Linked DNA regions of Homo sapiens: region 2 is linked to region 1. The links come from fine-mapping of genetic effects on gene expression. Tissue or cell type: ovary. Region 1 holds a variant in brackets; the other region holds the start of a gene. All regions are shown on one strand. Distances are between the middles of the regions.

Region 1 (8,106 bases):
AAAAATACATTAACTCCAAAAAGAGAGGAAATAGGCATTTTGAGGGACGAACTCAAATTTTTGCTCTAAAAATGAAAATCCTAATATATAGGATAGATAGGAATTGGATTCAGCAAACTATATGCTATACAAACCTGAAAGTTGCCTCTAATTTCCCAACTGGTAATCTCAATTCTATAATCATGGGCACAGAGTCCATTCCCCAGTGGTCTCAACTCACTTTGGGAGCAGACCGTGTTTACCTGCCACAGTTAGAGAACAATCTTCCCAGTCTTGCATTTCTTCCTTTAGAGAAGGAAGAGCTGAGGTGCAGCCACCTGTTGCACCTTCTGCAACCCTCAAGCTACCAAAATTGTACTTGACAACAGTTTGTTGAAAAATGGACAGAAGTGCCAAATATCCATTTGTCTATTCAAATGTACAAGCCACCTTCCTAGTGAAATGTTGGTTGCAATTGCATTTGAATTAAACTTTAGAGTAGGGGGGAAAGAGACGTGTACATTTCCACTTTTCAGTTCCTTTAAATGCTAAATAGACATCATGATATTCAGTCAGTCCTGCTTCCTGAGGTTATTACCAGGCATGCAAAAGAAATACACTGAACTCTTTTAAGGAAGTGCAGAATATGTGATATTGAAGTATGACAATATAATACCTTAATTAAGGAGTTAATTTTCTATTTCCTCTAATGAATATAATCAACCGCTACCTCTTTGTTCTCCAGTCCATCACTTAATTAATCAGTTCCTCCAAGCAAAGTGAACATATTCTGGTCCCTGAATAAAGTGGAGAAATATCTGCCATAGTCCGTCAGCCTCCAGGCACAGCTGTGTGGAGTTATCCACATCCACAGCCTCCCCTTGCTGGGGCACCGGTAGTCCATGGTTAATGCAGCCCTGGATGACTAGGGGAGGGGCTTAAGCTTGATTCAGACGGGAAATGCACAGATGGTTTTCCCACTTATCTGTCAAAGAAAAACCACATTTCATTCTCCCCAGAAGGTAATGCTGCTTTGTAAGAAAAAAAGTGTGGCTCATTTCGTTGAGACTAAATCTGCAGGCAAAAAACTGAATGAGTCAACCATTAGCATGTGGTCAGGAATTTGACTACCAAAGCCAGCATTGGTTTGTCATCACAATTGGGTCAGTAGATAGAAAGCTGTCAGGCATTGAAGGAAATTTTGGAAGGTAAATACATTATATACAGTTCTAAAATATTAATACTACAAATTTCAATAAGATCAGCACCTGAAAAAAAATCTTGAATAAGCATTGAGTAGAAGAGTCCAGTTGTGAAGGGCTTATAGTAAATGACAAGTGCAGATTCTTCTAGAGCCTGTGACCAAGATAAAGCCCTACCACCAACCATGTTTGGGGTCACAAAAGCTGGGTTGCTCAGTTCAACTTCCATTATCTGATAATCCTAGTGATGCTGTAACAATGTACCACAAACTGGGTGGCCTAAACAACAGAAATGTGTTGTCTTACAGTCCTGGAGAATAGAGGTCCAAGATCAAGGTACTGGCAGGGTTGGTTCCTTCTGAGGGCTGTGAGACAGAACCTGCTCAATGTCTCTTGCCAAACATCTGATGCTGGGTTCAAACGATTCTCCTGCCTTACAGAAGTATCATCCTAATCTCTCCCTTCGTCCTCACATGAGGTTCTTCCTGTGTGCCCAATCTATGTCACCAAATAGCCCCTTTTGTTAAGGACAACAGTCACCTAGGACTAGAGTCCACCTTAATGGCCTCATCTTAACTAACCTGCAAAGACCCAATTTCCACATAAGGTCACATTTTGAAGTACAGGGGTTTAGGGCTTCAACATATGAATTTGGGGGAGAAAGGACACAATTCAACCCCTAATATCTACCCTGGGTGTCCATGCTAAGGTCTGAGGGAGGAGGCAAGAATGCTCATCCAGCTAGGAACCTGTTTGCCAGCTGATCACTGAGCATGCATAGGAAGACAAAGCTAAAACTGAGACAGAGAACCGTGTGGCTAGATGGAGTTTGTCAAACCCTAACTTTGGTTTAAAATCAATGAGTTGGCCGGGCACTGCGGTTCACGCCTGTAATCCCAGCACTTTGGGAGGCCGAGGCAGCTGGATCACAAGGTCAGGAGTTTGAGACCAGCCTGACCAACAGGGTGAAACCCTGTCTCTACTAAAATACAAAATTTAGCCAGGTGCATACCTGTAATCCCAGCTACTCAGGAGGCTGAGGCAGGAGAATCGCTTGAACTCAGGAGGTGGAGGTTGCAATGAGCCGAGATTGCACCACTGCACTCCAGCCTGGACAACAGAGTGAGACACCGTCTCAAAAATAAAAAATAAATCAATGAGTTTATTACATTTCCATATTTAGAATTTGATATGGTTTGAGTCTGTGTCACCACCCAAATCTCATGTTCAATTGTAATCCCTGGTGTTGGAGGTGGGGCCTGGTGGGAGGTGATTGGGTCATGGGAGTGGTTTCTCATACTTGAGCACCATCCCACTGGGTGCTGTTGTGGTGATAGTGAATTATCACAAGATCTGTTTTTTTAATGGTGTGTGGCACCTCCCCCATCTCTCTTCCTCCTGCTCCAGCCATGTAAGACAAGCCTGCTTCTCCTTCACCTTCTGCCATGACTGTAAGTTTCCTGAGGCCTTCCCAGAACCTGAGCAGATTCCAGCATTGTGCTTCCTATACAGCCTGCAGAACCATGATCCAATTAAACCTCTTTTCTTTATGAATTACCCAGTCTCAGATATTTCTTTATAGCAGTGTGAGAACAAACTAGTACGGGATTCATCTTTACTTCATCTGAAGATGAAAATGCATTCAAAATAATATGCAAACCTCTTTCTACTTACTTCCATCATAATCCTGCATAGGTCAACATTGTTGGGTGTTTTAGACAAAATATTCAGGAGAGTCAGCAAGGCATTGGACACAAGCCCTTTACTCAGAACAGAAACAAAAAGGAAGAGCTTGTACCAGGACTTTATTTATTTCCTGTCTTCAAACACACAAAATACTGGTCCACTGAAATTGAAAACATTACCAAAATATTATTTTGCATTCCAAATAAGCAAGGGGTAAAGCTCCATCCCTCCCACTCCCTTGAGTGTGGGCAGGACATACTGACTCACTTCAAAGAAAGTGAAACATAGTAACTTTACAGTGTACACAGCTGGTAAGCATGATCTTACCCAAATGATCAAGGACAACATCGCTAGTGATAAATCACGTGTATGTCATGTAACTCTGATAAGATGTGATGAGAATGGTGTTTTGCCCCTGTGTTACTCTACCCCGAAACCCATAACCCGAATCTAATCTTAAGAAAAACATCAGACAAGCCAAAATTGAAGAATAGTCTATACCACACTTGTCCAATACTCTCAAAACTTTCAAGATGATGAAACACAAGAAAAGACTGAGGCTGGGTGAGCTGGCTCACGCCTGTAATCCCAGCACTTTGGAAGGCCAAGGCAGGTGGATCACCTGAGGTCAGGAGTTCAAGAGCAGCCTAGCCAAAATCATGAAACCCTGTATCTACTAAAAACAATAACAAAAAAAATTACAAAAATTAATCAGGTGTAGTGGTGCATGCCTATAATCCCAGCTACTCGGGAGGCTGAAGCAGGAGAATCACTTGAATCCGGGGGACAGAGGTTGCAGTGAACCAAGATTCCAACACTGCACCCCAGCCTGGGTGACAGAGTGAGACTCCAGCTCAAAAAAAAAAAAGACTGAGAAACTGTCACAGACCAAAGGAGATGTGACAACTAAATGCAACGTGGTAGCCTGGTTAGGATCCTGGGATAGAAAAAGACATTAGGAAAAAACTAGTGAAACTTAAATATAGGCTGGAGTTTAGCTACTAGTAACGCACCAATGGTGGTTACTCAGTTTTGACAAATACACCACAGTAATGTGAACTGATAACATGAAGGGAAAGCAAAGCTGCAAGAGAAT[T/C]ATACAGGGACTGTCTGTGCTATCTTTAGAACTTTTCTGTAAACCCCAGATTTTTCCAAAATAAAAAGTGTATTACAAAATATATATAGAGAGATAGATAGATAGATATAGATGTGTCATTATGAAGCAGAACATATCAAGCCTTGTTTTCTACCATATTCAAGTCTAAATATAAACCCACATTTAAAATTCTATGTATAACATAGAGTCCGAAGTATAATACTTTAAATTGGAAAGAAAAAGTAACAAGATGCTGCTCCTTGTTTATCTTATGAAGACTTAGAATTTTCCTGCATTTCAGAATGTTCAAGGGTCATGGTCCATGTCAGGCAGGATTATTCATGACACAAACCATACTGAAACTCCCTGCTCATAAAAGTGAACCTCTTATTCTTGAGCTAATTCAAAAGATAACTTCTATCACATGCCAATGTTACCCAACCTGAACCAAACAAAAAACATCCTAGTGCAGTTTTCTGCCCCAGGTCCTGAGAGAATCTCGGTTTAATGACTTACCATCAAAGTTAGCTTTGGGATGGGGAACGATGTCAGAGACTTTGCCTGTGTTTTTCTTTGAATCTCAAGTACTCAATTTTTCTCACAGTTATTCAAAATTTAAAGCTCTGGTTGTTTGGATTCAGGAAAACATTTTGTTTACATGTATATGAAGAACTCAAAGTAAAAAGAACTCATTTCAAAGTTCATGGAATTTCAAAAAGAAATAAAGCAGACATCCACTGTGAAGTCGTTGCATCATAAACTAAGAAAGCATCCTGCTCCAGACCAGGGGAAAACGTACTATGTTGGAGGAATATAGAGAAGAAAAAGTCCTTCTACAGAGAATCGACCCTATTACCTACACCAAGCAATAAACTTTGAAAAACCTTTGAAGCTAATTTCCACGGCACCCCAGCCTTTCCTGACCCCACAGTTCAGGAGGAGTTCTCTCTTGACCTCCGCTTCTTTGTTCTGTTCAGGCCTTCAACTGAGTGGAGGAGGTCCACACAAATTAGAGAGGACAACTCATTTTACGTGATCTACCGATTCAAATGTTAATCTTATCCAGAAACCCCTCATAGACATACCCAGAATCATGCAGAGACAAATATCTGGGCACCTTGTGGTCCAGTCAAGTTGACACATAAAAGTAACCATCATCCATGCCACTCCTCCCATCAGATGGTGAAGCCCATTCCCCCTCTCCTTGAATCTGGCCTAGCCTGTGACTTGCTTTGACAAATGCAACAGAGTTGAAGTGTTGTGTGACTTAAGGGATCTTGCATCTCCCATGTTTTGCACTTTTAGAAGACAACTAATATGTAAAGAATCTTGAGTTGGGCTACAGAATGATGAGAGAAAACATGGAGAGAGAGAGAGAGATCTGGCAAGCCCACAGACATTGTAGACATTCCAGCTGAGGCACCAGGTGTGGAAAAACTACTTCAATTCTAGAGCAGTAATTCCGGCCAGCAAATGAATGAAATGAGGCTGACTGCTGAGCCTTGTAAAGAAATTAGAGTCAGAGAAAGTTCTGGTGGACTTAAGTCTCTGATTCTAGCCATCTAGATGCACTTTCTCCTGTTACATAAGATATAATTGTTTGCTTCTAATAAATTTTCCCTTTATTTTTAAGCTAGTTAATGTCACTTGAAAACAAATAGGTCTGGCAAAGTGTGGTGGCTCATGCCTTTAATCCTAGCACTTTGGGAGGCTGAAGTAAGCAGATCTCTTAAGGCCAGGAGTTCAAGACCAGCCTTGGCAACATGGCAAAACTTTGTCCCTACTAAAAATGCAAAAATTAGCAAAGCATAGTGGTACACACCTGTAGACACAGCTACTCAGGAAACTGAGGTGTGAGAATCACCTGAGCCCAGGGAGGCAAAGGTTGCCGTTAGCCATGATCATGCCACTGCACTCCAGCCTGGGCAACAGAGTGAGACGGTCTCAAAAAAAAAAAAAAAAAAAAAAAAAAAAAGATCCTGAATAATATTTGCTTCAAGAGTCATTATGAATAGGTTTATAAACTTCCACCCATTAATTTTCCTTGTAGAATGTTCTTCTAAGAAAACAGGCAAAATCCTGGAAAAAAATGTGTGCAAAAAATCAATGCACAGCAATATCTGTCTCATTGCAAAAATAAAAAATAGATAATCTAGATAGCCAGCCATATGGAAATTATAAAATAAATTATATCATCTTTATAACCAATATCTTCAAGATAGTTTTTTTTTTTTGCTATTTTAAACATAAGTAACATTTATAACAGTAGGTTTTAAAAAATAAGGGTAGATTATATGTACAACATGATTACAACTGTTCTAAAAAATATGGAAAAAAGTCTAGAAGGAAATAAACCAAAATTACAGTGTGAATAATATATGCTAAAGCTTCTGGCTCCATTTTACATTTTTATAGCAAGCAATCATTGGAAAATTGTTAGAAAATTAGTAGTTATCAATTACATAAGTTGAGAATATGGCCTTTTCTGTTTTCCTACACTCAGAAGTCTAGGAAATTGATGGGACATTGTGGTCGTGGTCACAGAGTGTTATAAATACTATATTCCAATTTCTTGAATTCTTAGCCATCATATAAAGATGCAAATCATAGGCAGTTCACTACTCTTTGGTATTCAGTTAACCTATTTGCGCTTTACAGAACCAAAATGCAATTGAGATCACTACTGAACAAGGTTCACCTTGTCCACCCCATTGTTGTCTCTTAGTCATGCAGTTAACCACCTAGGGCAACAAGTTTTTTGATGTCCCATGATCATTCCATTGGAGTAATTACATGTTCTCCAGTTCCATTTTTAAACAGTAATTCAATGGAAAATGAAAACAGAAATTCAACAACTTAAGCCAGTTTTCTTTTGCCATATGCTTGGACAACTGGATAAAATCTTTTCATCCACCAATCATTAATAACTTCCAAATTATTGAAACACTCTTTAGAATTATTTAATATTAATACAACATGCTTAACATTGTATTTAAAAAGAAAAAAGAAAAAAAAATGAATTCCCACCCAGTAATTACTACTTGTGACTCATTACCCCAGAACAGACTAACAAAAGAAAATGCTTGACAATTTTTAAGGAGACTCAAATTGCTGCTGTAGAATTATTAAGATAGTTATTACAAGTTATTTGGATATCAGTTAATGGTATAAAGGAACATGTACTAAGTCTTTTCAGGGTGCAAGGATTAAATTTAGTAAGTAGCTAGCCATTCAGGTCAAATTTTTTAATTTTACTTTTTTTTTTGAGACAAGGTCTCGCTCTACTGCCCAGACTGGAGTACAGTGGTAAGATCACGGGCTCACTGCAGCCTTGACTTCCTTGGCTCAAATGATCCTCACACCTCAGCTTCCCAAGTAACTGGGACTACAGGCATGTGCTACCACACCTGGCTAATTTTTTCACTATGTTACCTAGGCTGGTCTCAAACTCTTGGGCTCAAGCAATCCTCCCACCTCGGCCTCCCAAAGTGCTGGGATTACAGGCATGAGCCTCCGCACCCAGCCTTTTTATTTTTTTCCTTTTACCTCTATGTCTATGTTTAACTGTTCTACATATGACCTGGTTACTCAAAATCAGTTAATATATATCTATTTAGTGCTTATTATGTGCTATAAACATGTTGGAGATCTAGAGGGGAAAACACTAGAATACTTTCCTGCCAACATGGAACTGGCTTTCCACCATCCTCTGAGTTCCCCATTTGCATTCAGGGTCTCACATAATCCAAAACTTACACATTGCTTTGCAGTGGAGCCTGTGGCACCTTTTATGGGTGCTGAACAGATCAGAAGCATGACTGCAGACCTAGCACCTGAGAAACATCTCTGATTTCTTTGGGAAGCTTTTTCTTTGTAAATGATTAAAATAAAAACTACTTCAGCCCTCGGCACGATATTCACCCACAGTCAGGCTGCCCCTCATCGGGTACAGACAGGTGTCAAGGTGAGTACCAGCTCTTTCCCCCTGCCCTTCTGTCAGGTAAGCATGATGTTAGATCATCAAGAAAATTTGGCATATTTTTATAAAATAATCATATCTTTCTCTCTCCCAAGGAAATGGTTTGCGGCTGATCAATTTCCCATCCATGTCAACTAGATGAGAAATAAGGAATTGGAATAAGG
Region 2 (8,106 bases), 180 kb after region 1:
ACGATTTCCTGAGAAACCACTCCAAAAACATTACCCCAAAACACATAAAGAGTACTTTATCTTTCAAAATATTCTATTTGCAACCTCACAGTTCCTTCCTAATAGTTGTCCACTATAATTAAGCCAAAGAAAAAAGCTCATGTTCACTGGCTTATCTAATGTCTTAAGAGATACAATAAATTTAAAGGATTAGATATAATTAGAGAAAATTTGATATAACAATAAAGATTCCATGCCCATTTTCAGAGAATATTCAAGTTGTCTATATATCTACTCAGTGTTTTTCCCCAGCAGTTACCTGGTTTCCAGGGTACCAGCTAAGACCATCATTAAGAAGAGAAAGAAGATGTGAAATAAGTAGGTACAAACTACATTAAGATAAAGGTCTGGACAAATCAACGCATTTCTTTCAACAGAATCAGATACCAAGGGCAATTGCTTCTGACAAATAATAGTTCACAGGTCTTCTTTGGATATTTAAAAAAAAAAAAAAAAAAAACATTTACAAGAGATCACAAAAATAAGACAGAACAATTTTATAAATCTTTTATTTAGTAGGCATTGTTTATTCCAGCTTGTAAAGTTCAGTAGTGCTTGATGTAAGTTTTTAAGCCTGTGGATGAACGTCTTAGCTTAATGCTCCAGGTACACTGGGATAAATGGGAAGTGAGCTTATTAATAGACTTGCTAGGCTTTCCCTTTCAAACACATATTTAGAAAGACAGAAATTGATTATGTTCCAAAGACCAGTATCAAAGCACTATAAAATAATATTCTATACCAACCAGTTTGATTTCAAGTTATTCATAAGATTTTAGAGTGTGTATAAACAAGTATGTGTATGTGTACATGTGTATATACATGACACCTTGTTTTTAAAAATGGGTGTGGATTTTGCAATTTTTACAAAACTACCGTAAATAACACAGACATCCATTTTAGAGTGATCAAATCTCCTCCAAATGAAAGTTTCTCTCTGATGTCATACTCCGCTTGACCATGAAATGAAAATGGCTTCAAACTGTTCTTAATTGTGAAATTAAAAAATAAAGAGACAGAACGCATCACCTCTTGCACCATAAGATCCAGGAGGATTATGGATCCTAGTAAATCCAGGATTATGAAGAGGCCTCCAAGGATAGACAGCCTAAATGTTTAGGGCTCTCCCATTGGACCTTTAAACTAGGGTGATGTGGGGAGATAAGGTTCTCTTCTACACGTCACAATGGCAGACTGAGTACCAGTTAAAGAACAGAAATGCCACTGTCATTGTTGGTGCTTTTTATCAAAAGGCTCAATTTCTCTATCTGCTAAAGCTTGGCAAAAAGCTAGCTGGCTAAAAGAATAAGCGAACTGATAGAAATATTTTAATTCTGTAATAATTTTTAAAAATCGATTTAAATATTATCTCACTCAAAAACCTAAGATTTACTGAATTGGGGACATGCTGGTATATATTTGCTATTGAATTTGTTCTATATTCCAACATACCCCTCGCCAAAAACACAACCTAAAGGAAAAGAAAAAAGAAAGAACGTAGCTCTCTAAATCATAATAACCTACTCAATACTAAGGAGTACAGAGGGTACAATCCATGCCACCTAGAAGACAGCTAGACAGCCACCGTAGCCAGTAGATGGGCCCTGATATATTAAACGTGGTCAATATCAAGTTCTCATCAAAAAGGACAAAAGAGATGATTTCCATTGCTGCCACGCGTTATTCCACCAGGATGTACTGACAGTACTTAAGCATAAAACCCTATTAAACATAACCTACCACTGCAAAAAATATCATATTTGGCTCCTATTTAATATACACAATAAGTCCCTTTTTGTGTGGTAAAAACAAACTACCTGAAAATAAATCTAAATGGCCATAACCTGGAAAATAGATCATCTGAAAGAAAATCAGCCATCAAAGGTATATCATGGCTTCTGTTAGGTAATGGGGAAAAAGGAATCATTGCGAACCTAATCAACCAGCTTCACCCCAACGACTGCCTTCTTTCTGCCCCCATCAGATTTCCATCTGGACGCCATTCGCCTTTTGGAATCCTTAATGAAACAATGAGTTCGGAGTCCAGAGAAAACAGAAAGGGTTAGGATCCCGACAAGGTAATCGTTTTCTTCTCTCCGGTTTTTGTAGGCCATCTTGTTCGAATAAACGCCAAGATGTCTTAATTTTCCCCAGGTGGTGTCACTGGAGGCAACGCCCACTGACAGTTTTGAGGCCACCTTCCCTTAATCAAATGACCAAAAAAGATCTGTCAAACGGTTAATTGATGCAAATTAAGAAAGCCACCCTCACTGCAGTAAGATATGTTACAGGAAAAAGAACAATGAACAGTACTAGAAAGGAAAATAACAGTGTGCGGGTACAAAATATTTAATCCACAATTTGCCTTCATCCTCATCAAGGCAAATCTTAATTTTGGTCAATTGAAATCAGCAAGAAAGCAAAAGATGAGAGACAGCCTGGAAAAGAAGAAACACACACACAGGCGGGAAAAACTGTCATTGGTGTCCAAGGGTTTCCCGCAACATTTAGGGCAAACGCCTTTGTTCCTCGGCTCGGGAGGGGAGTGGGTGGCTGGATGATGGAGATGGGATGGGGCTGCCGGGCCCTCCACACCCTGCTCTCCGGCGCATGCGCGAGGCCAAGACAAAGGAATAGGTAATTACAGTCCCGATTCATTCATTTTGCCTGCAGTATACTGGGGGTCTGTTGGCCCGGGCTGTAATCCCGGGAGGTGGGGGTGGGGGGTCGGTCCACAACCCTATAGCAGAAGGCCATTTCGACGCTAGTGTTGGGTTTTAGCCCGCCCCACAGTGCGAGTGGCCGCGGGGGAGACAGAGGTGTTGTCAACCTGTACAAGGTCCTAAAAAATGCACCCATGTGTGCTGTGCTAATTTCAGCAGAGTGAGAATTACATGGGCAAGGGCTGTCCACCGAGTTCGTTTCAAGGCGGAAATGTCTCTGGGGACGCAGATAAGGAGCCTGGCCAAGCGTTCGATGAATATTCATGAAAAGAATGCGGTTTGCAGCCGCGCATTGTGCGTGCGATCGGATCCAGGATTCCGCAATTTTTATTTTTCTGGAAATGGAGGGGGGACGGGGGCGGGGGGAGCAGGAACCGGGCGCCGGGTTTCAGCTTTAGCGCTTTGGGCAAAAGCTGCTCAACCCCAACCCTACGCTCCCAGCGGGGCTGAGCCCAGTTAGGGCCGCGCGCTGTCAGGTTCAAGCCCACACCCCCCGGGCCCGGGCCGGGGCCGGGACCCAGGGCGGAGGCGCCTGGCGCATTCTTGGAACCAAAGGCTCGAAAAAACAAACTGCTCCGAGGCAGCCCACGGGTTCGTAGGAAGGCAATTCCGCCACTGACGAGGCTGGGGCTCCGATCTGCTCGGGAGGTGCTTCTGAGTGCACGTCGCCGTGTGAACCTCGTATTCCTTGGCCCCAGAACCAAGATCCAGGAGTCCCATGGGTCGAGAAAACCCGTTTGCCAAAGCAAAAAGCCACCCACTTCCTTCTGATCGGGCCAGATTCCCCATCTTCTTTCTCCCCGGACTCCCGCCCCACCCCACCCCCACCCTCCATCTTTGGCTGCTGCGCCCCTCGCCCCGAGCGCTTTCTCCCAGGCTGGTAAGGGCTCCGATGACGGAAGCGCTCCCTTCAGCCCACAGAACCGTCTCCCCGGGACTCAACGCACTGAGGGGGTTTCGCATTCGGCAATTCCTCCCGTCACCCGCAGCTCCTCTCCCCGACAGCCCCCTCCCCCCAGCTCCGTTTACCAACCTCGCCGCCCCCCTCACCCCTCCACCATGCGAGCGGCTGAAGCCTCCCACTTCTGGGCCCCCCATCACCCGGGATCCCCGAAGTGCGACGGAGCCCTCACAGAGGGACCCCAGGCCCTTGCCGTCCAATCCGGGCCCACATCCCTGCTGCCCGCTGCATGAAGGGAGAGCCCGGGGGCTGCGGGGCGGGGCGCGGCGCGGTGGGGGACGGAGGCCCCCGGGTCCGCGGCGGCGCGGGGCCACCGGGCGCGCCTCCTTACCGGCTCTGGGTGCCTATGCAGCCCCTGAGTTAGCGCGGTGCCGCCGAGAGGCCGGGGTCGCTGGCGTCGTCTGGCTGGTGCCTGGCCGCTGGCGGAGGCTCTCTCCCGGCTCGACGGCGGAGCCCGGAGCGAGGAGCCAGTTGGAGCGCTGCCGCCGCCGTCGTCGCCGCTGCCGCTACTGCCGCCGCCGCCGCCGCTGCAGCCTCTGCATTTCTCGCGCTCGCTCCCCCTCCCCTTCCTGCCCAGTGCCCTCCCCCCGCGCGTCCGCCCGCCCAGCCTCCCTCCTCCCGCGCTCCCCGCCCGCCTCTCTCCCCTCCCTCCAGCCCGGCGCCCCGCCCGTCTCCCCTCCACCCCCTCCAGCTCCATCTCCCCACCCCCTGCACTCCCTCTGCTCCCCTCCCCTCCTCCGGCGCAGACCCTCCCCTCTCCCCTCCAGCCTGGACACGCCCGCCTCCCCTTGACTCCCCCCAGCTCTGGGCCCCCACCTCCCCTCCCCTCCAGCACAGTCACCCCCATTTCTCTCCTATCCGCCATCCTGGTTCCTCCCTTCCCCCCACCTCCCAACTCTGTGCCCCGCCAACGTTTCCTAAATGCCCTCTATTCAGATCCCCCCTCCGCCTCCCCTCTCCTCTCCTCCATTCCTGCGTCCCCCTTCCCCCGCCGCGCCGCCTGGGCTGTCCGTGGACTTCTCCCACTCTCTCACTCTCTCACTCACTCTCTCTCTCTCTCTCTCTCTCTCACTCTCTCTCTCTCTCTCCCCCTCATTTATTTGGAACCGTTGGATAAGAAGTGCTCGGGCTCTCGCTCAGACTTAGGGAGCTGCCTCGAGGTGATGAATGACACCCCCTGGCACCAGCTACCCTTCTCAGACCCCAGTCCAGCCCGCTCCCGACGTCGACTACGATTCCGCTACCTCGGCTGGCAGCGAGGTTGGGGTGAGCCCCAGCTGCAGGCGCGTCTGGGCTGCGCCGCTGCAAACGAGTTGCGCACCTTGGGCGGCTCCGCACCTGCACCCGCACCCGCGGGGCTCAGCCCCGAAGGCTGCAGCTTCGGGGGAGGCGCGGTCGCCGAGGTCCAGCTGGTGGGGCGAGAGACGTCGCCCCTCGGAGGATGCTCTCGGAACTTGGGAGAGGAAGGAGGGAAGAGAAGAGGGGAAAGGGGCCGTCGATGTTTTTGATGTCTGTGCTTTAATGGAGGCCACCAATATTGAGAAGACGGGGTTGGCCGAGGCAGCCCGCACGCTGCTGCTTGCGAGCGCTCGAGTCAAAGCTAGGGCCAACCGCGGCTTGTCCGGGTGCCCTAAGGGGGCGGACACTTGGTTTAGCACCGGGACACAGAATAGCCACCGGGGTAGGAAGATGCGTTCACTTTGCTTACCTGTTGGCAAGAGGGACATACAAAAATAACGTAACGTGACATCGTTGACAACGGTAGCTCTTTGATTACACAAAAGCCAATTTTACCTTCCCGCAAAAGCCAGTTGACGCCTTTGGAACTTTTATTTGCGGCATTTTGGCGCCCTCTGGCTGTGTTTGGATCGCTTTCATGCTCGCCTGCGTCCCAGCCAAGAAAAAATCGATGGAGCTGCAGGTTGTCCTCAGGATGGTTCTGCCCTCAGGACCTGGGCGTGAATTCAGGGACAGGGTGGCCCTCCAGAACCGGAGTGACAAACTGTAACCATACTTAGGGAGGCAGACGTCAAAGGCAAGTACATCTGTATTCAACTGGGTAAAGGTAAGTGCATTTTCACTTAACAGGAAAATTAACTTATCGTAACTTTAACGTACATATTTGAATTAAGCAAAGTGGCAATATTTACTCAACTGCACTAGCGATTTTGCAGTGGAAACACTTGACGACCCTACTGTACACATTTACAGGTCATAGGAGGCAGCACCAAATTAGATTAATGCATGCCAGCTGGAAATGTTCAAATTTAAACCAAAGGTAAGAAAAAAGCGGGAACTGTTTGTTTTTTCCTGTTTCTCTTTCTGCCATTTAAAGTGAAATAAAAAGTTAGTGTAGTAAAATACCAGGGAAGCAAATTACAAATGAGGTTGCTTCTAAAGCATTTTATTCTTTTGAATATTTATTTCCCTCACACCAGTACACCATCTATAAAGCTAAATGGAGGATGCAGGTTTTCCCACCTCCTTTTGGGGCCAGATATTTCTTTGTTGTGGAAGGCTGTCCTATGCACTGTAGGATGTCTGGCATTCATTGCTGGCCTCTACTAGCAGCCAGTACCACCCTCCACACACACCACCAGCACCAGCACCAGTTGTGACAACCAAAAATGTCCCCAGATATCGCCAAATGTCTCCTGGGAGGCAAAATCACTCCAGGCTGAAAACCACTGAGCTACATTTTCTTTCAACCTCTATGAGCAAGTCTCTAGGTTTTTACCCTATCGAATTAGATGAATATTTGCAATGTTCTGCTCAAGACATTTCCTGAGTTTGTTAGAGGAGCTGCCTACTTGTTCATTTAGCATTCAGGGTTTTTATCCTTGTGATCTTCCAGGCATGTAAATCATCTAAAAATTAGCAAATACATTTCCTCATTGTATTTGCAGTCTAAGCCTGTGGGTGTTATCTTCCTTCTCTATTCTCTTTTTCCAATTTTTCCAAAAAAAAAAGACAACATAAAAATTAATGTTCAGTACCTTCAGTGCTTCCAGCTAAATTTTCATGATGGAGAAAACAAACCTTTCAAAGGTGTGATTGGAATACAGATCACGGGTTACCATAGAAACCGGAGGCAAAAGCTTACACCAACAAGGAGAACTGCAGGTCTCCTTAATTTTGTCTTCCATCAGATTTAGTTGTTCTCTTAAAACATTTTTTTAAATTTTTTTAAAGGAGGGTGAGAATTCATTTTCAATGAGATAATGATGCAACTGACTGATAGTGCTATTAATCTTTAGAAGCTTTTACAGAATTTGTAGGTTTGCAGCAAATGGTTGCCAAAATGTTACCTCTCAATGTAACAATATTACTATATAAAATCCAATTTGGCGATGTTTTTAGTCTAATTTTTAGTTGTTCATCTAATATCATACTTTTTAATGTGTATGCTCTTTAAAACATTTTTTTAAACTGATGCTTAGGGAATAAATGAATAAACCTTTAAAGTTCTGAATTTTAGAAAACTGTTAACATTAACTATTGTGAATGTGTCTGTTTACATTATAGACTAATGATCTTGAGAACAAATATTAAGGGTGTAATTTATGATAAATTTAATTAGCTTTCACCATTATGCTCATGAAAAAAAGACTGTTTTACTCTCCAAATGGAATGAATGCATTTGTTTTTGACAAACAAAGCTGGATTTCATCGGTTATAAACTGAATTCCATTGTCATTTTTAATTGCCTGCATAACTTGCTCCAGGGAAGCATAACCTGCATTATGAAAATCATTATCCAAAAGATAAATTATTCGTGATTACTAATTTTTTTCTAAAAGATTTGTCTTTGCTTGCAATATAATGGTCTCATTGTCATTTAAATTACTAGTCAGTTTACAAAAATTTCCATGTGCCTTCAGCTTTTCAAATCATATCTATTGTGTCAACTAAGACACCTACAATAGATAATTATACAGACCTCATCAAGCCTCAAAACCTCACTCTTATCTTCCCTCTCCCCACCTCCCACATCACCCACCAAGGCCTAGCGTCTTTCTCAGTTCCCCATCCTTTCCTCTTAAATAGTAAAAAGAGGATTAAAATCTCAAATAAAAGATGTAGAACAAGAATGAAGCAGAAGCATGGTGACAGTAGTGTCACCCGAGTGTGACTCTAGCCACCTTTGCTTGACATCTTTCTGGATAGTTCCTGTTCAAGGCCACTGCATTAACCCAAACCCTCAGAAACCCATTTAGAGAATTTGAAAGTAAATTCAGCTCTACTGGTAAGTTTTCCGTGGAGGACCAACTTGCTGCAATTTGTTTACAAAATCTTATCTGCAAATTGCAAGCAAAAGGCCAGACAGTATTACAGATGAAAGTGTACGGCTTTTTTTCTCTTAAATATATTTATAATTTTTTA

Direction of the effects. Positions count from the first base shown, and alleles are read on the strand shown. Sizes are in standard deviations (SD) of each study's normalised expression.
In carriers of allele T in region 1, the expression in ovary of the gene that starts at base 4,234 in region 2 tends to be higher than with C alone (large effect, 0.77 SD a copy in GTEx).

Evidence for each region. PIP is the estimated chance that this variant, and not a neighbour inherited with it, causes the effect.
Region 2: BASP1 starts here. The variant in region 1 is fine-mapped to the expression of BASP1 in ovary (GTEx, PIP above 0.99).

What each region holds. Positions count from the first base shown.
Region 1 is chr5:17,391,522-17,399,627 of GRCh38, reverse strand. No RefSeq gene overlaps it. Among named protein-coding and RNA genes, the nearest start is that of LINC02111, 8.3 kb to the right of the region's middle. The variant T/C (reference allele first, on the strand shown) is at 3,964.
Region 2 is chr5:17,213,759-17,221,864 of GRCh38, reverse strand. BASP1 (brain abundant membrane attached signal protein 1) reads right to left here and starts at 4,234. Exons shown (of 2, transcript NM_006317.5): 1 at 4,055-4,234. BASP1-AS1 (BASP1 antisense RNA 1) reads left to right here and starts at 4,443. Exons shown (of 3, transcript NR_027253.1): 1 at 4,443-5,788. RefSeq lists an enhancer at 2,334-3,114 and silencers at 3,149-3,468, 3,959-4,438.